Homo sapiens: one gene and its partners. The protein of the gene in region 1 interacts with the protein of each later gene in a pairwise test. Each region holds a gene or a part of one and is shown in the gene's direction. Other genes may lie near its edges.

The links.
Region 2: the proteins of DESI1 (region 1) and TAS2R41 interact in binary tests that used the Homo sapiens proteins (3 or more experiments, as listed by UniProt).
Region 3: the proteins of DESI1 (region 1) and RPS27A interact in binary tests that used the Homo sapiens proteins (3 or more experiments, as listed by UniProt).
Region 4: the proteins of DESI1 (region 1) and PRR5 interact in binary tests that used the Homo sapiens proteins (3 or more experiments, as listed by UniProt).

Annotation. Positions count from the first base shown.
Region 1 is NC_000022.11:41,618,018-41,626,037, reverse strand, and holds the start of DESI1 (desumoylating isopeptidase 1), read left to right. Parts: upstream 1-4,994; 5' UTR 4,995-5,198; coding exon 5,199-5,286; intron 5,287-8,020. Other genes in the region: XRCC6 (X-ray repair cross-complementing protein 6), read right to left, coding at 3,952-4,033. UniProt on the Homo sapiens protein: Protease which deconjugates SUMO1, SUMO2 and SUMO3 from some substrate proteins. Has isopeptidase but not SUMO-processing activity. Desumoylates ZBTB46. Collaborates with UBQLN4 in the export of ubiquitinated proteins from the nucleus to the cytoplasm.
Region 2 is NC_000007.14:143,473,869-143,479,305, forward strand, and holds TAS2R41 (taste receptor type 2 member 41), read left to right. Parts: upstream 1-4,004; coding exon 4,005-4,928; downstream 4,929-5,437.
Region 3 is NC_000002.12:55,228,089-55,235,693, forward strand, and holds the start of RPS27A (ubiquitin-ribosomal protein eS31 fusion protein precursor), read left to right. Parts: upstream 1-4,599; 5' UTR 4,600-4,620; exon of another isoform or gene 4,621-4,719; 5' UTR 4,720-4,736; coding exon 4,737-4,784; intron 4,785-5,274; coding exon 5,275-5,329; intron 5,330-6,030; coding exon 6,031-6,116; intron 6,117-6,742; coding exon 6,743-6,874; intron 6,875-7,339; coding exon 7,340-7,489; 3' UTR 7,490-7,605.
Region 4 is NC_000022.11:44,726,203-44,733,228, forward strand, and holds part of PRR5 (proline-rich protein 5), read left to right. Parts: intron 1-374; coding exon 375-432; intron 433-5,527; coding exon 5,528-5,619; intron 5,620-6,048; coding exon 6,049-6,189; intron 6,190-7,026. Other genes in the region: PRR5-ARHGAP8 fusion protein, read left to right, coding at 375-432. UniProt on the Homo sapiens protein: Associated subunit of mTORC2, which regulates cell growth and survival in response to hormonal signals. mTORC2 is activated by growth factors, but, in contrast to mTORC1, seems to be nutrient-insensitive. mTORC2 seems to function upstream of Rho GTPases to regulate the actin cytoskeleton, probably by activating one or more Rho-type guanine nucleotide exchange factors.

The DNA of each region.
Region 1 (8,020 bases):
TGAAACGCCATCTCTACTAAAAATACAAAAAATTAGCTGTGTGTGGTGGCGCATGCCTATAATTCCAGCTACTAGGGAGGCTGAGGCAGGAGAATCACTTGAACTTGGGAGGCAGAGATTGCAGCGAGCCGAGATTAGTCACTGCACTCCAGCCTGGCGACAGAGATTCCATCTCAAATAAAAAAATAAAATTATTGAATTAATTATTTTAGAAACAGTCTTGTTCTCTCACACAGGCTGGAATGCAGTGGCGCAATCATAGCTCACTGCAGCCTTGAACTTCTGGGCTTGAGCGATCCTCTGCCGTGGCCTCCCAAAGTATTGGGATTACAGGCATGAGCCACCTTGCCTGGCCTGCCGATTGACCTCTTTTGGTGTAGATTAACAGAGTCCTCTGTCCTTCCTACTAAGGACCTAGAGAGGCTTAATCTGATTCAGGTTTTCTTTCTTCAGCATGACTTTATCATAAGTAACATATTTTTTCCTAAAAAGGTATATAATGTCTGGTCATCTCCAAGTAGCTGGGATTACGGGCATGTGCCACTATGCCCAGCAAATTTTCTGTATTTAGTAGACATGGGGTTTCATCATGTTGGTCAGGCTGGTCTCAAACTCCCGACCTCAGGTGATAGCCTGCCTCAGCCTCCTACTCCCAAAGTGCTGAGATTACAGCCGTGAGCCACTGTGCATGGCCTGCTGCTTCTTAATAAGTTTAATTAGCTGTCTCCTGGAGAACAAAATGGCAATGTGTGTCAAGAACCTTAAACATGCGATGACGCGATCTTGGCTCACCGCAACCTCCACCTCCCGTGTTCAAGCGATTCTCCCGCCTCAGCCTCCTGAGTAGCAGGATTACAGGCATGCGCTACCACGCCTGGCTTATTTTGTATTTTTAGTAGAGACAGGATCTCACCATGTTGGCCAGGCTGGTCTTGAACTCCTGACCTCAGGTGATCTGCCCACCTTGGCCTCCAAAAATGCTGGGATTACAGGCATGAGCCACCGTGCCTGACCTATTTTATTTTATTTTATTTTATTTTTGAGACGGAGTCTCGCTCTGTCGCCCAGGCTGGAGAGCAGTGGCGCAATCTCGGCTCACTACAAGCTCCGCCTCCCGGGTTCACGCCATTCTCCTGCCTCAGCCTCCCGAGTAGCTGGGACTACAAGCGCCTGCCACCACGCCTGGCTATTTTTTTGTATTTTTAGTAGACACAGGGTTTCACCGTGTTTGCCAGGATGGTCTCGATGTCCTGACCTCGTGAGCCACCCGCCTCGGCCTCTCAAAGTGCTGGGATTACAGGTGTGAGCCACCGCGCCCGGCCTTATTTTTTATTTTATTATTATTTTTTTGAGACAGAGTCTCACTCTGTCGCCCAGGCTGGAGTGCAGTGATGCAATCTCAGCTCACTGCAAGCTCTGCCTCCCGGGTTCACGCCATTCTCCTGCCTCAGCCTCCAGAGTAGCTGGGACTACAGGCGCCTGCCACCACGCCTGGCTAATTTTTTGTATTTTTTTAGTAGAGACGGGGTTTCACCATGTTAGTCAGGATGGTCTCTATCTCCCGACCTTGTGATCCACCTGCCTCGGCCTCCCAAAGTACTGGGATTATAGAGGTGAGCCACCGCGCCCGGCCCCTATTTTATTTTTTTTGAGATAGAGTTTCACTCTGTTGCCCAGACTGGAGTGCAGTGTTGCAATCTCAGCTCACTGTAGCCTCTGCCTCCCCGGTTCAAGCAATTCTCGTGCCTCAGCCTCCCAAGCAGCTGAGACTACAAGTGCATGCCACCACAGACTCAGCTAACTTTTGTATTTTTTAGTAGAGATGGGGTTTTGCCATGTTGGCCAGGGTGGTCTCGAACTCCTGACCTCAAGTGATCTGCCCGCCTCAGCCTCCCAAAGTGTTGGGATTACAGGCGTGAGCCACCACACCCAGACAAATTACAGTATATTTATTGAGATTACAAGTGTGAGCCACCACACCCGGCCAAATTATGGTATATTTAAAATGAGCTATAGGCCACGCACAGTGGCTCACACCTGTAATTCCAGCACTTTGGGAGGCCGAGGTGGGTGAATCACCTAAGGCCAGGAGTTCAAGACCAGCCTGGCCAACATGGTGAAACACTGCCTCTACTAAAAATACAAAAATTAGCCGAGTGTGGTGGCGCACACGCCTGTCATCCCAGCTGCTTGGGAGGCTGAGATGGGAGAATAGCCTGAACTGGGGTGGCGGAGGTTGCAGTGAACCGAGATTGAGTCAGTGCACTCCAGCCTGGGCGACAGAGCAAGACTCTGTCTCAATAAATAAATAAATGTATATGCACTATCGTTACAATACAAGAAATCAGATAGGCCAGGCGCAGTGGCTCACACTTGTAATCCCAGCACTTTGGGATGCTGAGTAGGGCGGATCACAAGGTCAGGAGATCAAGACCATCCTGGCTAACACAGTGAAACCCCGTCTCTACTAAAAATACAAAAAACTGGCCGGGCGTGGTGGTGGGCGCCTATGGTCCCAGCTACTCGGGAGGCTGAGGCAGGAGAATGGCATGAACCCGGGAGGCGGAGCTTGCAGTGAGCCAAGATCGCGCCACTGCACTCCAGCCTGGGCGACAGAGCAAGACTGTCTCCAAAAAAAAAGAAAAAGAAATCAGATACAGTCTGGGCATGGAGGCTCATGACTATAAACCTAGAACTTTGGGAGGCCAAGGCTTGGGGGTATCGCTTGAGGCCAAGAGTTTGAGACCAGCCTGATCAACATAGCAAGATCCTGTCTCTACAAAAAATTAAGAAATTATTGGGAGTTGGCGGCACTTGTAGTCCCAGCTACTGAGGTAGCTGAAGCAGGAGGATCACTTGAGCCCGGGAGTTTGAGGTTACAGTGAGCTACGATGATCTCACCACTGCACTCCAGCCTGTCTCTATTAAAAAATTAAAAAATATATATATTTCATTAGGAAATAAATATTGAAAGATACTTGAAAGAAAAATACAAAAATGTCAAAATGCTGGTAGTGGTTGTGTTAGAGTGGTAGATTATAGCAAATTTTTTTCTTTTTTGTATTTCCTATGTTTCTCACTTTTTTTTTTTTCCTGAGAGAGTCTCATTCTGTCACCCAGGCTGGAATGCAGTGGCGCCATCTCGGCTCACTGCAAGCTCCACCTCCCAGGTTCGCACCATTCTCCTGCCTCAGCCTCCCGAGCAGCTGGGACTACAGGCGACCGCCACCACGCCCGGCTAATTTTTTGTATTTTTTTTTTAGTACAGACGGGGTTTCACCGTGTTAACCAGGATGGTCTTGATCTCCTGACATCGTGATCCGCCCGCCTCGGCCTCCCAAAGTGCTGGGATTACAGGCTTGAGACACCGCGCCTGGCCGTTTCTCATTTTTAATAAAAATATTCAAAATTTTTCTGCTCAGGAGTTAAATTAACCAGTATGAAGATTACATGTACCCCTATTTCTCTTCCTTTGTTTTATGTGTTACTGTGTTGCCTGCACATACACTCCCAAACGTGGAGGCTATAGTGAGGGAATCAATCACTTTCCTGTAACTGTGTTGCTTGCGTTTATTCTTTGGTTGGTGTAGTTATTGCAGGGTGGGGGCATTTTTACACTGAGGTCCTGGAATGGTAACACTACTTTCCTGGATGAGAAGGGTCTCACCTGAACCACTTAAGATGACAAAAAATACCTATGGTCATGGCCATTTATCAGGGACCAAAAGATGTCAAACTACCAGTGTCCAAAAAAAACTTAGGGCACACTAGAGTAAGATCTGCATATAAGAGCCTAGGGTAGCTCTGCGAAGTTCAAAGGAAGAAAAGAATTTCAGAATTATCTGGGAGGAGAAGGGCAGGCCATCAAACAGCAAAGTCCATCCAGCAGAGATAGGCAGGGAAGGTCTTTCTTCCACACACCGAATGGCACTACATGCTGAAGTCACTTACCACTTGCTTCAAGGTTCTCTTCTTGTTCTTCCTCTGCTTCTTCATCGCCCTCGGTTTTGTAATATGACTCCCACCCTGACATGTTGGCTACTGCTCACTAGGCGAAAGACGTTAACGTCAGTAACAGGCAAATTTAAATCGAAAAAATACCGACCTCTAGGTTCTTGTGAGATCTGTTCTAAAAGCTTGGTTAGTAGTGAGGAATGTGGACGGTAAATCCTGCTGCCTCGAAAGCTCGGCAGTCGGACTGCATGTAAATGCGCATGGGGGCCATCCCAGTAGCTGCCTCATCTCAGCTATCCCTCACGTTTCAGGGCCGGCGGCGGCCCGCGGAAGCCAGATCCCGGAGGTCCCGCCCCCGACGCCATTTAGACGGTGAGGGATTCCCGCTCCAGGATTCTATGCTGACTAACGGACCCCCTCGTCCTCAATACCGCCCAAAAACCTCCCCAAATTCCTCAATCACGCCCAATGAGATCTCAAACGCAGACAGGCCTCAAGCGCAGGCGGGCCGCAAGCGCAGGCGGGCCTCAAACGCAGGCGGGCCTCAAACGCGAGGTGCCGCCTCCTTCCCGAGGAAGGAGCGTGGTCTCGAGTCTGTCGCTGCTCCTCGGATTCGCACACTTAAGGCTAACGCTAACCCTCTAGCAAGGCTATGGGGGCGCGCGAGACCGACCGAGCGAAGCGGGACGAGGCCAGGCCTAGCTGGCGAACAACACAAATGGATAACGGCCCGCTTACCTTTGGCGCAGGGAAGCGACCAACTTGGACAGAAGACGACAATCCACGCATGCGCGGGCCCTGTACTCGGTCCCAATCAACGCCCTCTACGTCATCACGCATGTGCGCACTATATCGCGTCAGGCTGGCACGCACACTCCCCAACCAGCTTCTACCTATGTCCCTGACGAAAGCCAACCCATCAGCGAGAGCCCCGCCCCCTTCGGCAAAGCCCCGCCCCTTCCTACGTCAGGACTGTAAGCACATGCGCAAAAGTGCATCCCTGCCCCCGCCCCCTCTTCCGTGTGGGCCCTCCCTGTCCCCTCTCTGTCACCTCACAGTAGTCGTTGCCGGTAGCGGGTGTGGGGGCGCGAGCAGCGCAGGGCGGCCTCTCCCCCACCCCTCAGCCCGGGCCCGGGCTCGGTCCCCCCCTCTCCCTCCGCTTCGCACTCCCGTCGGGTACGGGAAGGTCCAAGCCGCTGCCGGGTGCCCGAGGGCCGTCGTGGCCGCCGTCGCCACGGGTCCCAATGGAGCCGCCGAATCTCTATCCGGTGAAGCTCTACGTGTACGACCTGTCCAAAGGCCTGGCCCGGCGGCTCAGCCCCATCATGCTGGGTGAGGGGGAAGGGGCCAGGTGGGCAGGAGGGCGGGAGCCAGGCCAGAGGGTGGCGGCTGGCCGAGGTGGGGAGACTTGGGCCACGACTCACGGGGAGACACATGGCCAGGAGGATGGAAGAAAAGCCGAGTGGAGAAGAGAGTGGTCTGAAGTTTGGGCCATCTGAGCCCCGCTTTAGCCTCGCAGATACCATCCTCACGTTTGAATTCAAGGGGAAGGGATGGAGGAGTCATGCCTCCACCTTGCAGGGGGCTTGGGCAGAAACCGAGCCCTCGAGAGCCCCTTCGACGAGGGTGTGGGGTAAACCAGCGCTGGATCCCGGCGGGTTCTCTGCCTCGCTCGGGTAGCCCAGTGCACTCCTGCCTCCTTGGCGCGGTGTAGGAAAGGTGAGGATGCCTGCCGCGCGGTGCCCCTCGTGGTGACAGAGACACTGCGGAGGTCGGGTGGCTCTCGGAGAACCTTGTCTCAGTGCCAAAAGGAAGCTCCCTTTGCAGTCCCAGGGATAGGTGGGATGGGGGAGATAGAGCTGCCTAGGGACCCAGCCATCGCCCCCAGGTAGGTCAAGTCAGGATAAGAGGAGCCCCGAACTCCAGAATTCACCAAGCAGTCTTCTCCCCACAGTTTCTAAGTTAATTGCTTTTGCTCAAATGGCAAGAAAGCAGTTTTGGGGGAAGTTTGGATGAGGCTGTGTGAATAAGGATTAGTAAAGAAAGTATTTCGGTTGTGCTCCATTAAACTACTTAACTGGCAGGAGAAAAACCAGCCCTCATTCAGTGACGATCACACCTTATTTCAACTTAAATACAGGAATGTCTTGTGTAACACAGGAATTGTCAGGTTTGTAATTTCGGGTAACAATGAGCAGGAAAGAATTCCAATTATTGAAAATTGAAGCTTTGACAGCATCCATTTGAATGGCTAGTTTTTCCTGGCTTCTGTGGAGACACTGGCGAATGATTTAGTTCATCTCTGTGAGACGAGGGGGCAGAGATCAAGTAAGGGAGGCTACTTTTGAGGGCATCCTTCAATGTCCTTGAGTTTCTAATATGTCGTAGTGAATTGAACTTAATCTCACAACCGTGGGTCCATGAGTTGTTTCTATATTTGGCTTCACATCAAAATCATCTAGGGTGCTTGTTAAAAATGCAGATACCCTCATTTCCAACATATATTGTAAATGAGATTAGAAAAAACAAGGTTAGAATAGCTCTTTAAATATGCAAATCAAAGGATATATATGTGCTTGCTTAGGCAAATAATTATCCGTAAGGATACACAAGAAATTGATAACAGCAGTAGCTTATGGAAAGGGGAACTTGATGCCAGGGGAACAGGGGTAGAAGAGAAACTTTGCTGTAAACTGTTTCTTACCTCTGGACCTGTGTATTACATACACATAATATCTATTTAAAATGAGAAAATTTTAATTATATGGATTCTAAGGCTTCACAAATACTAAATCAGAATCTCCTGGAGTTTTGGTCCAAAAATCTGTATTTTTAATGAGCTTATCAGCTAATTCTTATGTAGCCAACCCATTATTTGACAGGGATTTGGGCCTAGATAACCAGTTGTTAAAATGATTGAGGCACATCTGAAAGCAAAACTTACAAAGTCACTGAGGAAGCTGTTACTCATTAATAGATTACATCAGTCAAGTGTTTTTTTTTTGTTGGTTTTTTTTTTTGAGACGGAGTCTCGCTCTGTCACCCATGCTGGAGTGCAGTGGCACGATCTAGGCTCACTGCAAGCTCCGCCTCCCGGGTTCACGCCATTCTCCTGCCTCAGCCTCCCGAGTAGCTGGGACTACAGGCGCCCGCCACCACAGCCGGCTAATTTTTTGTATTTTTAGTATAGACGGGGTTTCACTGTGTTAGCCAGGATGGTCTCGATCTCCTCACCTTGTGATCCGCCTGCCTTGGCCTCCCAACGTGCTGGGATTACAGGCGTCAGCCACCATGCCCAGCCCACATCAGTCAAGTTTTAACTAAACTTCTTGGAATGGAGCCATTTAGTTGTTTGTTTTTTTATCATAGTGAGGAATCAGATATTTCCTATACCCCACGTAAAACCTCCCCCTTTACACTGGGTATTTTTTATCCTATTACCTAATAATTATTGGGCAGCTGAAAGGAGCCTTAGGAGTCATTATTTCATTCATTCAGCAGATGTTTATTGAGCGTCTGCTCTATGCTAGTCAACGTGTTAAGGTAAATGAGGTTGATATAATGAACAAAGATGTTCTTTGCCATCATGGAGCTATCTAATGGGGGAGACATTAAAAATAAATACATAAATAATTAGTTACAAATTGCATAAGTGCCTTCTGCACAGGAAGCACACTGGGTGCTGTGATAGAAAATAACAAGAGAGACCTTTTTTTTTTTTTTAGACGAGTCTTGCTCTGTTGCCCAGGCTGGAGTGCAGTGGGGTGATCTCAGCTCACTGCAACCTCTGCCTCCCAGGTTCAAGTGATTCTCCTGCCTCAGCCTCCAGAGTAGCTGGGATTACAGGCGCATGCCACCACACCTGGCTGATTTTTATATTTTTAGTAGAGACAGGGTTTCACCATGTTTGCCAGGCTGGTCTTGAACTCCTGACCTCAAGTGATCCGCCCGCCTCAGCCTCCCAAAGTGCTAGGATTACAGGCATGAGCCACTGCACCCAGTGAAGAGACCTATTTTAAATAAGGGTATCAAGGGTAGTGACTTTGAAAGTGGGAATTTAGGATGA
Region 2 (5,437 bases), on another chromosome or scaffold:
TATTGCAAAAGGGTCCTCAGCTACCAATAATTACTTTAAATAAAAATGGATTAAACTACCCAATCGAAAGGCAAAGAGTGGCAAATAAATTAAAAACAACAAGATCCAGAGATATGCTGTCTGTAAGAGATCACTTTAAGACACACGTAAGATGAAACTGAAGGGATAGAAAAGATTTTCATGCAAATAGTAAACAAAAGAAATCAGGAGTAGTTATACCCAACAAAATAGAATTTAACTAAAAAACTGTCTCTAGAGACAAATAAGTCATTACATAATAATAAAAGGGCCAACTCAACAGGAAGATAAGACAATGATAAAAATATATGTGCCCAACTTGAGAATATATAAATATACAAAACAAATATTGACAGTTCAGACAATATTGACAGCAATATAATAATAGTAGGAGACTTCAATAACTGACTTAACATAATGAATAGAACATTCAGACAAAAATGAATAAGCAGTTTACCCGAACAACACTGCAGACTAAGTGGACCTTTTCACCCAATAGCAGCAGAACACCCATTCTTCTCAAGGGCACATGCAACATTCTCCAGGATAGATCCCGTCCTAGGTCACAAAATAAGCCTTAACACATTTAAGGAGATTGAAATTATTCCAACTATCTGGTCTGACCACAAAAATTAAACTAGAAGTCATTAACAGTAAGACAACAAAAACATTCAGAAATACATGGAAACTAAACACATTTTGAATAATCATTGAATCAAAGAATCAAAAGGTAATTTGAGAAGGATTTCAAGACAAATGAAAACAAAAACACTACATACCAGCACTTATAGGAATGCAGTACTAGAGGGAAATTTGTAGTGATAAATACATTAAAAGAAGAAAGATCTCAAATAAACAACCTAATTTTACACCTCAAGGAAGTAGGAAAAGAGCATAAAACATAAAACACTGATGAAAGAAATTGAAGAGGACACAAATAAATGGAAAGATATCTTATGTTCATGGAATGGAAAAATAAATATTGTCAAAATATCCAAATTATCCAAATCTACAGATTTCATGTAACTTCTATAAAAATTCCAATGTCACTCTTCACAGAAATAGAAAGAAAATCCTAAAATTCATGTGGAATCACAAAGGACCCTGAATAACTAAAGCCATCTTGACCAAAAAGAACACAGCTGTATGTATCACACTACTGTATTTCAAAATATATTACAAAATGATAGCAATCAAAACAGCATGGTTCTGGCAAAAAAACAGACACATTGACCAATGGAGTAGGATTGAAAGCCCGTGTATAAAACTACACTTCTGTGGTCAATTGATTTTTGACAAAGTGCCAAGAATACACAATGGGGAAAAGATAGTCTCCTCAATAAATGAGGTTGGGAAAACTGGGTATCCACATGCAGAAGAATGAAATTTCATCCTCTTCTTACACTACATGCAAAGTTAAATCAAAATAGATTAAATATTTAAATGCAAGACCTGAAATCATAAAACTCTTAGAAGGACACATAGGAAAAGAGCTTCTTGACACTGGTTTGGGTAATGACTTATAGAAAACTACACCTAAAGCACAGGCAAAAATTCAGCTAAATAAACATAGACAAATGGGATTGCATCAAAATAAAAAGCTGCAAAGCCAAGAAAACAACCAGCAGAATGGAAATTGGGAGAAAATATTTGTAAACAACATATCTAATAGGTGTTAATTTCCAAAATATATAAGGAACTTTGGCTGGGTGCCCTGGCTCACGCCTGTAATCTTGACATTTTGGGAGGCCAAGGCAGAAAGATTGCATGAGCCCAGTAGTTTGAGACTAGCCTGAGCAACATAGTGAGACTCTGTCTGTACAAAAAATAAAAAAAATTAACCGGGTGTGGCAGTGCATGCCTTTAGTCCCAGATACCTGGAAGGCTGAGGTGGGGAAGATTGGATCATCCTTCCTACCTTGAGGCTCCAGTGAGCTGTAATGGTGCCACTGCGCTCCAGCCTGGGTGGCAGAGTGAGACCCCGTCTGAAATAAATAAATACAAATAATAAAAATACAAGGAACTTATTCAACTGTAGTGCAGAAATAAACAAAAAACATAAATAACCTGATTTTAAAATGGGCAAAGGACCTGAATAACATCTCTCAAAAGAAGACAAAAATCGTTCATGAAAATATGTTTAATATCACAAATCACCTGAGAAATGCAAATCAAAACCACAATGAGGTATCATCTTACATGTGTTAGAATGGCTGTTACCAAAAAGATGAAGGATAACAAGTGTTGGCAAAAATACAGAGAAAAGCAGCTCTTTCAGTCTGTTGACAGGAATATAAATTATGGAAAACACTATAAAGATTTCTCAGAAAATTAAAAACAGACCTACCTTATCCAGTAATTCCACTTTTAGGTGTATATGCAAAGGAAATGAAACTAGTATTTTGAAGAGATATCTGCACTCCCATGTTCATTGAAAATTATTCACAATAGCCAAGACATGGAAACAATCTAAAAGCCCATTAACAGATGAATGAACAAAGAAAATGTGGTGTGCATACACAATGGAATATGATTCAGTCTTAGAAAAGGCGATTCTGCCATTTGCAACAACGTAGATGGAACTGGAGGACATTATGCTATGTGAAATGCTCCAGAGACAGAAATACATATATTGTACGATCTCACTTACATGTGGAATCTGAAAAAACAAACCCACAGAAGTAGAGAGTAGATTGGTGGTTGCCAGGGTTCTGGAAGGGGAAATGGGGAGATATTGGTCAAGGGGTATGAAGTTTCAGTTATGCTAAGTGAACATGCTTTGGAAACCTAAGGTATGGTAGTATGAGTATAGTAAACAATACTGCACTGTATACTTGAACTTTCATGAGAGGGTAGATCTTAAGTGTTCTCACTACACATGAAGAAATTGAAAACAGGAATTATGTGAGGTGATAGATATATTTTAAAAGAAAATATTTTTACTTTCAACATGGTCTCATAGGGACTTCTTTTTGATGTTGGTGTTAGACAGGACTCACATATGCCTCGGGTATCTCAGGGTGGCAGACAGACTGTAAAGTGGCCCTGCCTGTCCCTCAACCCTGGTGTTGGGCCTTTGTGTAACCTCCTTCTTTTGAGTGTTGTTGGTGACAGTGACTTGCTTCTAGCCAATAGACTATGGCAAAGGTGATAGGCTGTCACTCCAATGATTGTGTTATGTTATTTAAGACCCCATCTTGTTAGCAGACTCCCTTTAGAGACTGCTGACTTGACGTGAGTGGCCATGCTGAAACAGCTTACCTGGCAGAGACTGTGAGAGGCCTCTAGGACCAGAGAGCAGTCTCCCACCAACACCCAGGAAGAAACAGGGGCTCTCAGTCCTGCTTCGGAAGGCCCCTCAACCACATGATAATGAATTCTCTCACTGGAAATACAAAACCCGTTTACACCATTATCATTTACATCTCAGGATTCATGGAGGATCTAAGTAGAGATCTGGATGGAGAGGTAGACGAAGTGTTTGATTTTGAAGCGATTTGTGGGCAAAGGCAGTAAGGTAAGCATGGATGTGTAACAGGGAAGTACTGAGACAGAATTCTTTGATGTCACTATTTTTCCTGTGTATCTCCTATACTTGTCTCTATATTTAAAGTCTTAAGAATGTTCTGATGGGAAGAGGAGTGTTCATACGGCCTGAGGATGGAACTCAGTCACAGAGACCCAGAAAAATCATAGACATTGATACTAACCATGGCAGCATGCAGGAAAACTGGACAAGGCAAATTAGGGTAATTTGCAGGCCTAGTGGTAACTGACACTAGGATAAATTTGCATCCTGTCTGAGCCAAGAGCACACCTCTCCTCTTTAGCCTGAGCATCCTCCTCTCTAAGTGAGCTCTGGTTCAGATGCAGAGCCTGACCACTCTTTAGCACTCCTAGGAAAGATTAAAAACAGGACTGTGGCTAGGGGCAGGGAGGAGGCCAGGGACCAAGGCACTCAAGTGGGGACTGCAGGAGGGGTCAGAATGCAAGCAGCACTGACGGCCTTCTTCGTGTTGCTCTTTAGCCTGCTGAGTCTTCTGGGGATTGCAGCGAATGGCTTCATTGTGCTGGTGCTGGGCAGGGAGTGGCTGCGATATGGCAGGTTGCTGCCCTTGGATATGATCCTCATTAGCTTGGGTGCCTCCCGCTTCTGCCTGCAGTTGGTTGGGACGGTGCACAACTTCTACTACTCTGCCCAGAAGGTCGAGTACTCTGGGGGTCTCGGCCGACAGTTCTTCCATCTACACTGGCACTTCCTGAACTCAGCCACCTTCTGGTTTTGCAGCTGGCTCAGTGTCCTGTTCTGTGTGAAGATTGCTAACATCACACACTCCACCTTCCTGTGGCTGAAGTGGAGGTTCCCAGGGTGGGTGCCCTGGCTCCTGTTGGGCTCTGTCCTGATCTCCTTCATCATAACCCTGCTGTTTTTTTGGGTGAACTACCCTGTATATCAAGAATTTTTAATTAGAAAATTTTCTGGGAACATGACCTACAAGTGGAATACAAGGATAGAAACATACTATTTCCCATCCCTGAAACTGGTCATCTGGTCAATTCCTTTTTCTGTTTTTCTGGTCTCAATTATGCTGTTAATTAATTCTCTGAGGAGGCATACTCAGAGAATGCAGCACAACGGGCACAGCCTGCAGGACCCCAGCACCCAGGCTCACACCAGAGCTCTGAAGTCCCTCATCTCCTTCCTCATTCTTTATGCTCTGTCCTTTCTGTCCCTGATCATTGATGCCGCAAAATTTATCTCCATGCAGAACGACTTTTACTGGCCATGGCAAATTGCAGTCTACCTGTGCATATCTGTCCATCCCTTCATCCTCATCTTCAGCAACCTCAAGCTTCGAAGCGTGTTCTCGCAGCTCCTGTTGTTGGCAAGGGGCTTCTGGGTGGCCTAGATGGCATGGTTTCCTTATCTAGACCCCCGGAAAAGAAAGGTGAGGATGGCAGAGCTGTGGCCCACTGACATGGAGGTGTTTTCATAGGTAGATGAATACTGGGTACTGTTATGGGGCTCCTCCTCTGGGAAGCGGAGGAGACAAGGAAATCTGGGAACTCTCTGAGCATGCTTCCCTTCTTTGGAATGTTATAAAGATGCAGTCCCATGGATCCCAGAGAGCCAGTATTGCCCAGAAGTTCAGAATATGTTAATATGATGTCGTGCTACTCCTTACGTTTGTACCCCTTTGTTATCTGGAAGGCTTCGATTAAAAGTGTTGATTAACTGTGCCATCGCATCTCCACTGCCTTTCAGAAAGTTAAGAGCAAATATTTGCCTCTATGGCTGAACTGAGATGTGGATAGTGAAGCGACAGCCTTCTTGAGGACAAATGTCATGGTTACTACGAGAGCCCCAAGGGACAGGCAGTTGTGGCAGGCAGTGGCCTGGGCTGTGAGTTCTGATTGC
Region 3 (7,605 bases), on another chromosome or scaffold:
GTCAGATGCCACTGCTATGTTCTCCCATAATACTGTGCACTTCCTCCATCATGGTATTATCCTTCCACCACACTGCCTTAGAGACTTCCTGTTTATATTCTGTCTCATCTGTTAGGCTGTAAGCGTGACAAGATCAGGAAACAAAATGTTCTCTTTCCCCATCATCCCTCCTCTACCATATGCATTCAAGTGCATAATGCAGTTTCTAGCAGAGCAGTACTCAAACATATGTTTGCTGAATAATCAATAATCACTGAACAATAATCTAGTCTATTCATAAGACATTGGACTTGTGGTGCTCTCAAACCAGAACACAGCTAAAGGGATTGTTCCTTAACATCTACAAAATGCCATTGAGTTACATAAACCAACCAAGATTACCATTCATTCATTCATTCATTCATATTAGACATTTAGGGATGTGTTGACAAGTCACAAGGGTTCCCAGTCAAGTGTTCCAGGTCTAGTAAATGAGCCACTGCTACAAAGCAGAAAAGGCAGTGTGACAGAGGTAAGCACAATAGGCTACAGAAGGCCAGAGGGGCATCTCATCAGCCTACGGAAGGGGGCAAGGAAACATTAGGGAAAACATCTAGTAAAACAAAATCTAGGGCAATGCTTAAGTTGTGCTACATTTATTTATTCAATATTTGGGGGACACCTATTGTTTGTCTGCCATTATTCTAGACAATGGAGACACAGTATTGAACAAAACAAAGTCCCTAATCTCACAAAGGTTACATTCATGTAGAAACAGACAACACACAAGAAAAAAAATAGTCCAGGCACAGCGGCTCATGCCTGTAATCCCAGCACTTTGGAAAGCCGAGGCAGGTGGATCACTTGAGGTTAGGAGTTTGAGATCAGTCTGGCCAACATGGCAAAACCCAGTCTCTATTAAAGAATATAAAAATTAGCTGGGCGCAGGGGCTCACACCTATAATCCCAGCTACTTAGGTGGCTGAGGTATGAGAATCATTTGGACCAGAGAGGTGGAGGTTGCAGTGGGCTAAGATCATACCACTGCAATCCAGCCTGGGCGACAGAGGGAGATTCTGTCTCAAAAAAAAAAAAAAAAAAAGAAAGAAAAAAATTATATATATATAGAAATATAGTATGACAGATAGGGGTTAAGTTGTATGAAGAAAAATAAAACAAGGTATGGGGGATAGAGAGTAAGGAAGGTGGGAGGATACCATTTTCTATAAGGGCAGTAAGTCAGGAAAGACAAAAGAGCTTACTGATAAGGTGACATTTCAGAAATCTGAAAATAGCAGGTCATGTAGATTCCTGGGAGATGAGTGGTTGAGGCAAAGAGAGTAGCCAGTCCAAAGGCCTCAGGGTGGGACAACACATTTGAGGAACAGCTAGAGGGCCCGTGGGGCTAGAAGAGAATGAGAAAGGGAGAGAAGAGATGAGATCAGAGAGGTAACTGCCAGATTATGTAGCATGTAGGGTCTTGAGGGCAGAACTACTATCAGCCTAGGGGGTACCTTTGTGCGGTTTAGAAAAAGAGGTCCCTTTCTCTGGGCAGACTTGGCAAGAGGAGCAACACTGGACTGTGGCCTCTACTTGTTCCAGCACTGGAGCAACAGCCTCACTTGTAAGAATTTAGGCTTTCCTCTGAGTGAGATTCGAAGCCTTTAGAGGCCTGTGTGCAGAAGAGTGGGAGAGCTGACTTAACATTTTAAAGAATTGTTCTTGGCCAGGCATGGTGGCTCATGCCTGTAATCCCAGCACTCTGGGAGGCCAAGGCGGGCAGATCACCTGACGTCGGGAGTTCCAGACCAGCCTGACCAACATGGAAAAACCCTGTCTCTGCTAAAAATACAAAATTAGCTGGGCGTGGTGGCGCATGCCTGTAATCCCAGCTACTGGAGAGGCTGAGGCAGGAGAATCACCTAACCCGGGAAGCAGAGTTTGCGGTGAGCCAAGATTGTGCCATTGCACTCCAGCCTGGGCAACAACAGCGAAACTCCATCTCAAAAAAAAGAAAAAAAAGAATTGTTCTTGTTGCTCTGTGGAAAACAGATTATAGGACGCAAGGGTCAAAGCTGGAAGTGCTGTTACGAAGCTACTGCAATAATCAAGGCAAAAGATGATGGTGGCTTGAATCAGGGTGCTAACAATGGAGGTGGTAGGAAGTGTTCTGCATATATTTTGAAAATAAAGCCAAGATCTGCCAAGGTAGATAAGATGTGGGATATAAAAGAACAGTCAAGGATAATCATAAAGTTTTTGGCCTTAGTGACTGGAGAAATGGGAATTGCCATATATAAACATGGGAAGAGCAATTTCATGAGATTAAGTGTTTGGGGCCTGTCCATTAGAGATGTTGAGTAGATAGCTGGATATGTGAAGATGAAGTTGTGACATATCTGTGACATATCTGGTCTGACAGATAAGTTTATGAGTCATTTGCATATGATGATACTTTAAAAGTTATTAAACAAAAATGAGATAACCAAGAAAATGCAGACAAAGCAGAGGTCCAAGGACTGGGCCTTGGGGATACTCCATGGTTAGAGGTCTTGCAGATCAAGAGGAAGCAGCAAATGAGCCTGGAAAAGAGCCTCCAGGGTGGCAGAAAAACTGAGAGGTGAAGTCTTTGAAAGGTTTTCAAAGAGAGATGGAATGAGCAACTGTGTCAAATACTGCTGACAGATCAAATAAGATGAAATGACCATTGAATTTAGCAACATGGAGGTCATTAGTGACCATTACAAGAGCTATCCGATCAGAATGGTGGGGACAAAAGCCTGACAGGAGTGGGTTCAGACAACGGAAGGGAAAGATTAGAGACAATATGTACAAGCAACTCTAGGAAATTTTGTTGTAGAGACTAGTTGGCGGACTAGGGGATGAAAAATGTTCCAGGAGGCAGGGCGTGGTGGCTCACGCCTGTAATCTCACCACTTTGGGAGGCCAAGGAGGATGGATCATTTGAGGTCAGGAGCTAGAGAACAGCCTGGCCAACATGGTGAAACCCCATCTCTACTAAAAATACAAAAATTAGCCGGGTGTGGTGGTGGGCGCCTGTAATCCCAGCTACTCGGGAGGCTGAGGCAGAAGAATTGCTTGAACCTGGGAGGCGGAGTTTACAGTGAGCCGAGACCGCGCCACTGCACTCCAGCCTGGGCAACAGAGCGAAATTCCGTCTCACGAAAAAAAAAAAAAAAAGTTCCAGGAAGAATAAACGACTGGATTCTTCAGAAATGCCAAAACACGGGAGGGCATAGGTCAGGAAATTAAATTAGCTTCATTTACTAAAATGTAGAGTAATGGGTTTAGCAGATTAGGTTGTAAGGAAGGCAGAGGCTGAATGTCATTCTAAGAAATTTGAATTGTATCCTGAAGGTGAGGTATAAAATAATAACACACATTTACCTTTCAGAATGAATATTTTGGAGGCAATAGTGAAGGTGGGTTAGAAAGGAGGAAAGACTGGAGAGAGATAAGGAGTTAGATTCGGAACCCCTACAAGAGAAAATTAAGGTCTGAATTTGGGGATGGGGTCGCAGAGGGCAGAGGATGAAGAAATAAATACAGAAGACATTAGAAAGGACTCTGGTTTGTGGAGTGGAGAAAGGACAGGGAGAACTTGCTTCTAATTGGCCTCCTTGCCGGAAGAAGCACCCCATACATACTCCAAAAACTTCCTCTCAGATCCAAGACTCCCAATGCCCAAATTTGGAAATTCTACAACTAAATAACCATTCTGCAGGTTTCTTTTCCGTACGGCTTCACTTTAAAATTTGAAAACTCCTGAGATTTTTCAACATATTAAAGCGTGTCACACTAAGGAGTGACACACAAGACCCAGACTCTTCCCTAGGCTGGGAGAGACTCGGCGGTTGAAAGCAGGGAGGCGCTACAGGAGAGAAAGGGCTGAACCCCCGCTTCCGCAGATTTCACCTATTTTTCAGTTTGCCTGGAGCAGGCCACGCAAATTCCCTTCCCTTGAAGGCCCAAGGAGCGTCTGGTAGATTGCTGATTCTCTGCCCATCACCGCTTCTGGAAGTGAGTGAAGGACACCTTTCGTGCCCCGCACCCTTTGCCCCCCGCTTAACATTTGCTCTAGTCACTTCCGGCCCGTTCCCACGCTCCGGAAACCATTATTCCGCTTCATCCTACCTCCAGTCCTCACCTGAGTCCTTTTCTCCAAACACCGACTTCAGTGCTTAGAGATAGTAACTAGGGAATCTGGGAGGTGGAACTGCATCTTGGGACAAGTAGTCCAAGGTAGAAGAAAGCAGTGGAGAACTACAGTTCCCAGAATGCACTTCCATTTCCTACCTCTTCCCCAAGAGGCCCCCCTCGACCTCCTTTTAAAAATTCTCTTAGCCACGTTGATTGTACGGGAAAAGCCTTTTTAAAACATCTTTTACGTTGCTTAAACCTACAGTTTCGAAAGCATTCCGAAGGCTAAAGTGAGAAATAAGCCCAGGCTAGGGAGAGGAGAAACGAAGTTCACGTCCTAGTCTGGCACCGGGTTGGATTGTCGCTGGGACGGCAGTCAGGCATTTGGTGTGGTCGCCTAAGGGGTGGGTCCTTCGGCGGGAGCTCCGGGAAACCCCGTGGGCCTGCGCGGCGTTCTTCCTTTTCGATCCGCCATCTGCGGTGGGTGTCTGCACTTCGGCTGCTCTCGGGTTAGCACCCTATGGTGCCTTCTCTTGTGATCCCTGACCTAACCTGTCTCTTCCTTTTCCTCAACCTCAGGTGGAGCCGCCACCAAAATGCAGATTTTCGTGAAAACCCTTACGGGGAAGACCATCACCCTCGAGGTACGGGCCGGGTGGTCATGAGGAAGCCAAGGTCCGAATAAGGTCCTGAGGTGGATTTTAGGACCGGCGCTGCTTTCCATGTCTTAGACCATGATTCCGAATTTGGGTTCTAAAACTTAAGCTTTGAAATGAGTACCTTTTGCTGAGCAACGACCTAGAGGTGATTTTCGGTGGCCAAAGGCTGGACCTGTCTCCTCTCGAGGGGTTCCAGCTAGTTAGTTAAAACGGAGGAGCTGCGGTGGGGAAGGAGACGCTCTGCCCGCCGGGTGCGAGCACGTGTGGCCCTGCGGCCGCCGCCCGCTCTGGGCTGGGGAGATGAAGGTGCTTTCCGGTAGCCGACTTGGGAGGTTGCCCACTGGGTGGGTAATAGGTCTCTCGAGTAGGTCTCAGCCCTGTCGCTGGTTCGGTTCAGTGGTAATTGTCAAACTAAATGAGTTCTGCTGTAGTTCCTTAATGTGTAACCAACATGCTTTCACTTTAACACTCATAGGTTGAACCCTCGGATACGATAGAAAATGTAAAGGCCAAGATCCAGGATAAGGAAGGCAAGTAGTATTTTGTAGTTAAGAAAACTTAACCTGCGGAGACTTCGGCCTACCTGTAGGTGCTAGACATACCTGCTCTTGGTGATGGGGGAAGGGGTCAGATTGACAAAGCGAAATACTTGTGGAATAACACAATAGACATTGGTGATCGGGGAGCACAGTACCTAGATTGGAATCCTTGAGGTGTATTTCACTTGCGTGAATTTGGACACTTATTTATTTATTTTGTGTGAGATGGAGTCTCCTCTGTCGCCCAGGCTGGAGTGCATTCGCTTGTCCCGGCTTACTGCAGCCTCCGCCTCCCGGGTTCAAGTGATTTTTGTGCTTCAGCCTCCCTATTAGTGGGGATTACAGGCGTGCACCACCATGCCTGGCTAATTTATTGTATTTTTAGTAGAGACTGGGTTTTACCTTGTTGGCCAGGCTGGTTTTGAACTTTTCACATCAAGTGATCTGCCCACCTCGACCTCCCAAAGTATTGGTATTACAGGTGTCAGCCACTGCAGACAACCAAGTATTGTCCCTAATATTAAATGCGGTAAAATGTGACATGTAAAGATTTAGAACCATGCCTAACCTCTAGTAAGGGCTTATTGTCAGCCTTTAGTATCATGTATTTGATTAAGGGGTGTTACCTTATAAGTCTGGAGCACATCACAGGCTTGGTGTGCTGTGACTTAATTTTTGTTTTTTGTCATTAGGAATTCCTCCTGATCAGCAGAGACTGATCTTTGCTGGCAAGCAGCTGGAAGATGGACGTACTTTGTCTGACTACAATATTCAAAAGGTCTGTCTAGGGGAAGAGCAGCCTCTTTTAAAAAAAAAATGTTATTTTGGAAATTTTTTATTTTACTTTTTTTGAGACAGGCTCTGACTCTGTCACCTAGGGTGGAGTGAGTGGCGCAGTCACTGCAACCTCCACCTCTCAGACTCAGGTGGTCCTCCCACCTCAGCCTCCTGTAGTTGGAACTATAGGCACCCGCCACCATGCCCAGGCTGGTCTCAAACTCCTGGGCATAAGTGATCTTCCCACCGTGGCCTCCCAGCGCTGGGATTACAGACGTGAGCCACTCCATGTGGTGTATTCTGGACATTTTGACACACAAAAAGGGAAAATGGCATTCGAATAGCAGTAGATTTTTAGGTAACTCCTATACTGATACTTGAGAAGCACTGCTATAGTTCTCCCATTATGAATTTTGCAAGTTGTATCCCATGGTGTAATGTAATGCATTCTTTAATGTCCCTATAAACTGTCAGTTAAGAATCTGATACTTTATTGGGTTTGGGGGCTGCAAGATTCCCTCAAATGTTATTGTGTGCTGCTACTGCTTTTAATTAGAAAATGCATAATGTTGGGTGTGCCCATTCTTAGTGGAATCATGAAAGCTTGCTTCATTCTTCCATTAACAGGAGTCTACTCTTCATCTTGTGTTGAGACTTCGTGGTGGTGCTAAGAAAAGGAAGAAGAAGTCTTACACCACTCCCAAGAAGAATAAGCACAAGAGAAAGAAGGTTAAGCTGGCTGTCCTGAAATATTATAAGGTGAGCCAGTTAAAGGGCAGAATGTCAGCAAAGTCTTGGCTTATTTGGAAAACTTAATCTTTATAGTACTTGTCAATATTTTCTTGGACTTAAACACCCAATATTATCCCACTTTGGTTTAAATGAGGTATTCTGGAAATGAGAAATTCAGACTTTCTGGGGTTTTTCCTGTTTGGTATTTGAAATCAGTTATGTAATAGGGTTCTGAGTTTAAAGTCGGGTTTGGGTTCAGGTCTTTACCTTTGTCTACCACTTGCAAAGCTGGCCTTTAGTGTTCAAAAGTCCCAAGACTTCTGAATGTTTTCATTGTAGCAATGATAACTGGTGAGAATTTAGGGTGCTTTGGTTTGTAAGCACCAAAACCACCAGTATTACACAGTTAAAAGCTTAAATATTTTGAGTCACTTAAATTAGACTTCAGAATGTGTTGTAAAATTATCTTAACAGCAGGTTTGTGCTTTTCAGGTGGATGAGAATGGCAAAATTAGTCGCCTTCGTCGAGAGTGCCCTTCTGATGAATGTGGTGCTGGGGTGTTTATGGCAAGTCACTTTGACAGACATTATTGTGGCAAATGTTGTCTGACTTACTGTTTCAACAAACCAGAAGACAAGTAACTGTATGAGTTAATAAAAGACATGAACTAACATTTATTGTTGGGTTTTATTGCAGTAAAAAGAATGGTTTTTAAGCACCAAATTGATGGTCACACCATTTCCTTTTAGTAGTGCTA
Region 4 (7,026 bases), 3.1 Mb from region 1:
GGATGGCAGCTGACGGGCCCGGCCTTTGGTAATCAGAGTCACCTCTTGATGCAAAGTCCTTTCTTCACTGTGGGACATGCCAGGCTTCTGCCTGCCCAGCTGAGCCCAGTGCAAGGAGCTCTAGGCCCTGCCCACCTCTCGGGATGTCCGTGTGACCACCTCCTGTCTCGTGACAACCCGGGGTTGGGTCAGTTACCCTCCTGGATGAACTGATGCTCAGGCCCTGCAGCAGGTGGACTGTGGGACCTCAGTGAGTCTCCTCCCCCTTTAAGCCTTGGCTGCTCACTGGTGGATGGACTCTCGGGGGCCCTGCTGGCCAGGACACCCCCGGGCATCCACAAGGGCGGTGACAGCCCCTCTGTGTTTACCTTCAGAACCAGCTGCTGACAAAAGGCATGGTGATCCTTCGGGACAAGATTCGCTTCTATGAGGGTGAGTGTGGGCCCCTTGGCGGCCACTCTGGGCCATGCTGGGTCCTGGCTGGCTGCTGGACTGCTGGGCCTCGTGCTGGGGGCCTCTGGGTGCAAGGTGTGGCTCTCTGGTCCGGAGGGCTTGGAAGGAACACGTATAGCCTTAGGGCAGCAGGGCCGAGATCCTTACCCAGAGGGAACCCTGGGAGAGGGTCTGCCCCCCGAACTTGCTGGAGCCCAGGAGGGCTATGAGACATCGGGGAAAAGCCCCCTGCTTCCCCTCCCTGCCCACGGGACTTTCTGGCCCTAGTGAGCTCTGTCCCCGCAGCCTGGGAGAGCCCCTGTCCTGGTCTTTGGGGGTCAGAGGAGAAGTCGGTTAGGGCTGAGGTCACCGATACTCACAGAGGAGGGGACAGGGTGGGGGACTCAGCTGAATTTTCTCTGTCGAGGCTCACAGCCACCCACTGGGACCTTCAGGTTATTGTTCCTGAGTGGGAGAGTACAGTGATGATAAGTGATTTGCCCAAGGCTACAGTGCACATCAGGGGTGGGGGCGGGACTCAAACCCAGGTCTGCCTGACTTTAGGGCACACACCCTTTGCCCTTCTCACGGCCCGGAGGTCCCCGCTGGCCTCACTGTGCAGGTTGGGCTTCCCGTGGCCGAGAGCCTCGGGCAGCAGCAGCAGCGTGCGCATCCTTGCAGGAGCGAGCTGCCCTGGGAGCGGGGTCAGGTGAGGGGGTCCACTCAGTTCCCACGGATGCTGCTTTGCTCGGGCTGTGCTGGGATCGGGCCTGCGCTGTACCCGTGTGTTGAGCACCTGTGCACTAGGCACCGGGTGTGTGCGTCCCTCCGTGCTGGACTGCCCCGAGTGTTTCACATCTACTAACTCATTTGATTTCCACAACCCTGTGAAGAAGCCACCGTTGTTAGCACTGAATGAATGGGGAAAGTGAGGCACGGTGTCCTGCCCAGGCCACACAGCTGCACCGTGGCAAGGCCAGGGTGCCAAGCAGGCCACCGGGTCCCGAACCCATACTCTTCACTCTGCTGCCCCAGGCTCCTCCTCCAGGTCTCCCTCTGACCCTGGGAAAAAGAGCTACTAGCCCACTCCACAGAGAAGGACACAGGCCCGGAGGCCTGGCATGTTCCAGGGGACCTTGGAGCTGCGTGTCATGGTCCTTCCTCACGTCCACTGAACATGTTGGGTGGGGCCAGCCAAGACAGGAACACAAAGAGAGGCCATGAAAACCATCAGACCGTCGGGGAGACATGGGGGTTCTGGGAAGGCTTCCTGGAGGAGGCAACATCTAGACTGGCAGGACAGAGCTGTGAGCATTTGGCACCTGACGAAGATGGCCACCCACGCCCCTCGCTTGATGCGGCACATTCTGGCGGTGCCTGTACCTCCCACCAGATCTGGCCTAGGGGAGCCGGGGCTCTCGGAGAAGGGAGTTTTGTGTGGCTTGAAAGGAGCTCTGCGTGGGACAGCCAGGTCTGCCAGGCCTCCCAGCAGGGGTGCCTGCCCAGCAGAAGGGGCAGAGGACAGCCCTGGGAGGCCCAGCATCCTCTTCTGCCTCGCCAGCCCTTCCTGGCCTCCCCAGGTCTCAGGGACAGGCACTGGGCTCTACGCTGGGAGTCTGAGGCCCTGGCCTCCAGTTCCCATGTAGCTGCAGACACAGGGTTTCCTCTCCAGCCTCAGCACCCCTGTCTTAGCAATGTGGGGTTGAACAGGCTCTGTCCACTTGAGTGTTCTCTACATGTCAGGCCCAGGTGACCTCTGGGAGCCCAGAGATGGAGGAGAACCTGGCCCTGCCCTTCAGGGACTCACAGCCCAATTGGGGACACAGACACGGACCCGAGGGTGACAGTTGAGTGTGATTAATGTCATTGTGAAGGAGTGTCCTGGGGAAGAAAGGGTTCATTCCACCTTGGCAGTCAGAGAGGGCTGCATGGAGGCAGTGGCCCTTGAGTAGGGCCTCAAAGTGTGGTCTGTTCAGGGGAACTTGTGGTCCCTTTTGGCCCCATGCAGTGGGGACATAGCCACCTCCACATCCTGATGGGCGGCCTCAGGGGCCTCCCCCTTCCTGCTCCCTACCCCTGCTTGGGTTCCACTGGGAGCTCTTCACTTTGAGCCTGCTCCTTGCAGCTGTCCCTACAGAGCCTCTACCAGAGGTGGGTGATGGCCCCCTGTGGGGAAGCCCCAGGACCTTGCCCCCTGCCCCTTCTCAGCCTCCAGGGAGGCCTTGGACTTCAGCCCCTGGGCAGAGCCGGTCCTGGAAGCGGAGAGCCTGGAGGAGTGGCCTTGAGGTGGAGGGCTGCCTCCCTAGGAAGGGGAGGAAGACTGGACCGCGGCCGGGGTTGTAGTTTGATGGCCTGTGTGTGGCTTAAGGGAATCGGCTCCAGCTGCAGCCAAGCAACTCCTTGGAAGCCAGAAACTTGGGAACTCTGGGCGGGAGCTCCTGGTCCTCTGCTGGGCCCTGGGATCTGCCGTCGCTCATCCACCAGGGAATCCAAACCCGGTATGGGTCACGTGACCCAGCTGTGCTGCCTTACACGCTTGCCTCCATGCCTGTGCCTCGGCCGTCCCCGCGCCAGACACCCTTGACCTGGTCCACCCAGCGCGTGGCTTTTGTCACTGCCCTGCGCTCCTCACTGTTCCTGAGTCTCCCGACGGGCTGAAACAGGGTTGTTGGTTTGCAGGGCCTGCACAGGGCCCTCAGCACTCGGATAAAGAAAGGAAAGACGGACACCAGCCTGCGCCCACAGCGAGAACCCCAGAGTGGGAGCCAGCACGGAGCCAAGGCTACTGCGGGGCCGCTCGCCTGCATCAGCCCCTGCTACTGCCAGGCTGGAGCCAAGGTACGGCGCGCACACACCCGGCCCCGTCCTGCCGGCAGCAAACGCCCAGTGCTGTTTCATCTCAGCTTTCGACCTGCCCACGTGGGGACGTGTATCACGCCCCTTTCATAGAGGATGCCACTGAGTCCGCCTGGAGGAACTTCCTGGGGTCGCCCCATACCTGCCTCCGACTAACCCTACTGCCCCACAGAGGGGCCCCCACAGGACAGGCCCCGGCAGAGAGCCCCAACAGCCGCGAGGCTGCCCTTCCTGGCCTCTCGTCACCGTGTGGCTCCAGCTGGGGCCTGGATTCTGTTTTACAACATCTGCTTTCCGCAGCATTTCCGCCCCGTGGGCTGGAGAACAGCCTGCGCTGAGCAGAACGCAGGCCTGGCCGGTGCCCAGAGCCACCCCCCGGCCAGCCCGGGAACTGAGCTGCCTTTCTTCCTGCCGCGGCGGAGGGGGACTGAAGGGACTTTGTGTGTGGGCACAGTTCGGCGGGGCGGTGAGCATCCATCCGTCCGGGGCATTCCTGCTGGCCCCCATCACCCTCAGAGCCAGGTTTGGGCTACCCGGGTGGGCAGAGGGCTGGCCACTGGGCTGGGAGCCAAAGATGGGACCCAGTCCAGCTCGGCCCCAGCCCCCAGGGCTGCCCCTGGCGGGGTCCCACTCCTAGTGCCCTCGAACCTACATGAAGCTGGGGGCTTCCGGGAGTGGGGGCAGGGCCCAGAGAGTGAGAAAAAGGCAAAGGTCCCTGTTCAGCCTCCGCATTCCCATGGAAACCTCAAAGCAGTTCTGGCCGGGGGCGCAGCCTGAGAGACAGCCGGCAACGCTTCCCTCTTCACTCAGAGGCGCCCACACCAAGATCTCTCTCGCCAGTTGTTCGTCTGGCTTCCAGGGGACAGCAGAGGCCTTGGGGACACGTCCTTGGACTGTGCATCCCTGGACCCAGCAGCCCTCATCCCAGCTCCGCTCAGTCCAGGCAGAAAGGCCAAGGGTTCTTCACGTTGCCTCTCCCACTGGAACCCAGAGCCAGCTTGGGCAGCTGTCCCCGTCCCACAAGGGTCACTCACCTGGTGCATGGCACCGTTCCTCTCAAGGCCAGCAGAAATCCTACAGAGCTGGTCCCGATGTCTGCTACCTACGTATCTGTTTCAGAGACTCACCTGTCAAGATGTGTCCCCATACCACTACGTCTGGCAAGCCCAGCTCCTATAGCCAGCTTGGATGCTCTTCCTCCAGGAAGCCCTCCCTGCCTGACCCTCTGCACCCTCTTCTTCCTTCGACGTGGTGCTGCTATTGGAAGGGGTCTCCGTGGATCCCCAGACCTGACCACAGGCAGAGCTGGCCTGGCCCTGGGTCCTCTGGGCCACTGACTGTGGTGCACCCTTTCCTCGGAGGCTCAGCCTCTGTCTGCTTGGTGGGGGGTCGATCACCCCTGGCTACTGCCCTTATGATCCTGCTCAGTGTCCCACTTCCCTGTCATGTGATGGATGGGCAGCTGTTTGGGGCTCAGCTGGGTCCCCAGTGCCCAGCATCAGCGCCAGCACACAGTAGGTGTTCTGTGTTTGTTGGAGGGGCAGATAGTGTGGGGGAAGGAGGGAGGAGGTCGGTGGGTAGAAGAAATCAACTGCTTAGCCGGGTTGTTAGGAGGATCTGATGAGACTAGGATGTGAGTTGAAACTGCTGTGCCAGGCACACCTGTGTGGGTCTCACTTGTGCCAGGCATACCTGCGTGGGTCTCACCTGTGTAGGTCTCACCTGTGCCAGGTGTACCTGTGTGGGTCTTACCTGTGCAGGTCTCCTGATGCAGGTCTCACCTGTGCCGAGTGTACCTACCTGTGCGGGTCTCACCTGTGTCAGGCGTACGTGTAGGGGTCTCACCTGTGAACGTCTCACCTGTGCCAGGTGTATACCTGTGTGGCTCTCACTTGTGTGGGTCTGGTATGTGACAAAGGCCTGGGAATTGGCAGCTGTCATCTGCCAGGAGCAGACCCTGAGCCAAGTTCCCTGTGCCTTAGGCTCATTTCATGCCCTCAGCTCTGGGAGGCCAATCCCTTTACTGCCACATTTTATAAATGGAAGACTGAGGTTAAGCAGTGGGCCCAGGGCCATAGAACAGCTGAGCTGTGGAGCTGGACATCGACCTTGGGCAGGTGCTGCCAGGGGCCTGAGCCCAGGCCCTCCACTCCCGCATCCTCTGATGACCCATCCTGGGTGAGTGGAGGCATCTGCCCGCGCCAGTCAGGCCCAGTGGTGATGGCCCCCATGCCCACAGGACAGAAGCTGCTGGACTCACTGGCAGAGACCTGGGACTTCTTCTTCAGTGACGTGCTGCCCATGCTGCAGGCCATCTTCTACCCGGTGCAGGTGGGCAGCCCAGCCCTGGGGAGGGAAGCCCAGTGCCCCTGCTGTGCCCACCCTGGCCTCACTCTACAGAGGGGGGCCGCCAGGCTTGGGGACACACACACCTGCTCTGCTCTGTGCTGCTCTCCTTGGGCTACCTGAGTTGCTCAGAGCCTGTTTCCACCCCTTCAAGCTGCAGATATGGACGCCTCCCTCCCTGTGAATCCCCCAGCAGCGAGGCACAGCGTAGGGGCTCTGTGACAGTAACCCTTTCACTGCCAGAGGAAACTGAAGGGGCCCTCTATCCTTGGGACGGGGTCATCTGAGGAGAACGGGGTGGAGGGGCCTGAGGGTCGGCAGGTCTCTTCCCCCTGTGGGGTCCCAGGACCGGGAGAGGGGAGATGAGGACGCATGTGACCACAGCCGGTGGGGTGGGGTGCCTTCCGTCCACAGGGCAAGGAGCCATCGGTGCGCCAGCTGGCCCTGCTGCACTTCCGGAATGCCATCACCCTCAGTGTGAAGCTAGAGGATGCGCTGGCCCGGGCCCATGCCCGTGTGCCCCCTGCCATCGTGCAGATGCTGCTGGTGCTGCAGGTGGGCACAGTGGGCAGAGGGTCGGGCATGGGGACCGTGGGGCAGTAATTGGGCTCAGGTCCCCACAGGCAGAGCATGAGATGAGGATTTAGGGGCACGAGACTTAAGGAAGGGCCCGATCAGAGGAGAAGCCTGTCAGGGCCAGGGACCGGGGAGCAGCTGGTCAGAGCTGTGGGTGCAGGAGAGCTCAAGCTGCAGACCCGTTCCTCTTGGGCACAGGGCTGGGCCTTTACACCCTGTGTCGGCCAGCCTGGGGCTGTGCCCACCCCCAGCACGCACACGCACATACACACTACACACATACTTGTGCACACGCACATAGTATGCACGTGCACATGCATACACACCACACACGTGTGCACGCACACGCTACACACATGCCTGTGTGCACGCACATACTACATGTGCACACGCATACACACTACACGTGTGCACGCACATACTACACACGTGCACACACGTGCACACGCACATACTACACACTGCACACACACACCACACACGTGCACACGCATACACACTACACACGTGCGCACGCACATACTACACACGTGTGCACACATACGCGTGCACACGCATACACACTACACACATACATGTGCGCGCACACATACTACACACGTGCACATGCACATACACACTACACACATACTTGCATGCACGCACACATACACACAGTGTCCCAGTCATTTCTGCCCAGAGGGCTTTTGTCAGTGGGTCAGCTCTGGGGAAGACACTCTGAGAGCTGTTAGCCCCCCTCACAGCAGGTGGGGAGAGGTGCCTGCCCCAGAAAGGAGTGGGGCCCCCAGTGGCATCCACCGCAAGCCAGGGGTTTCT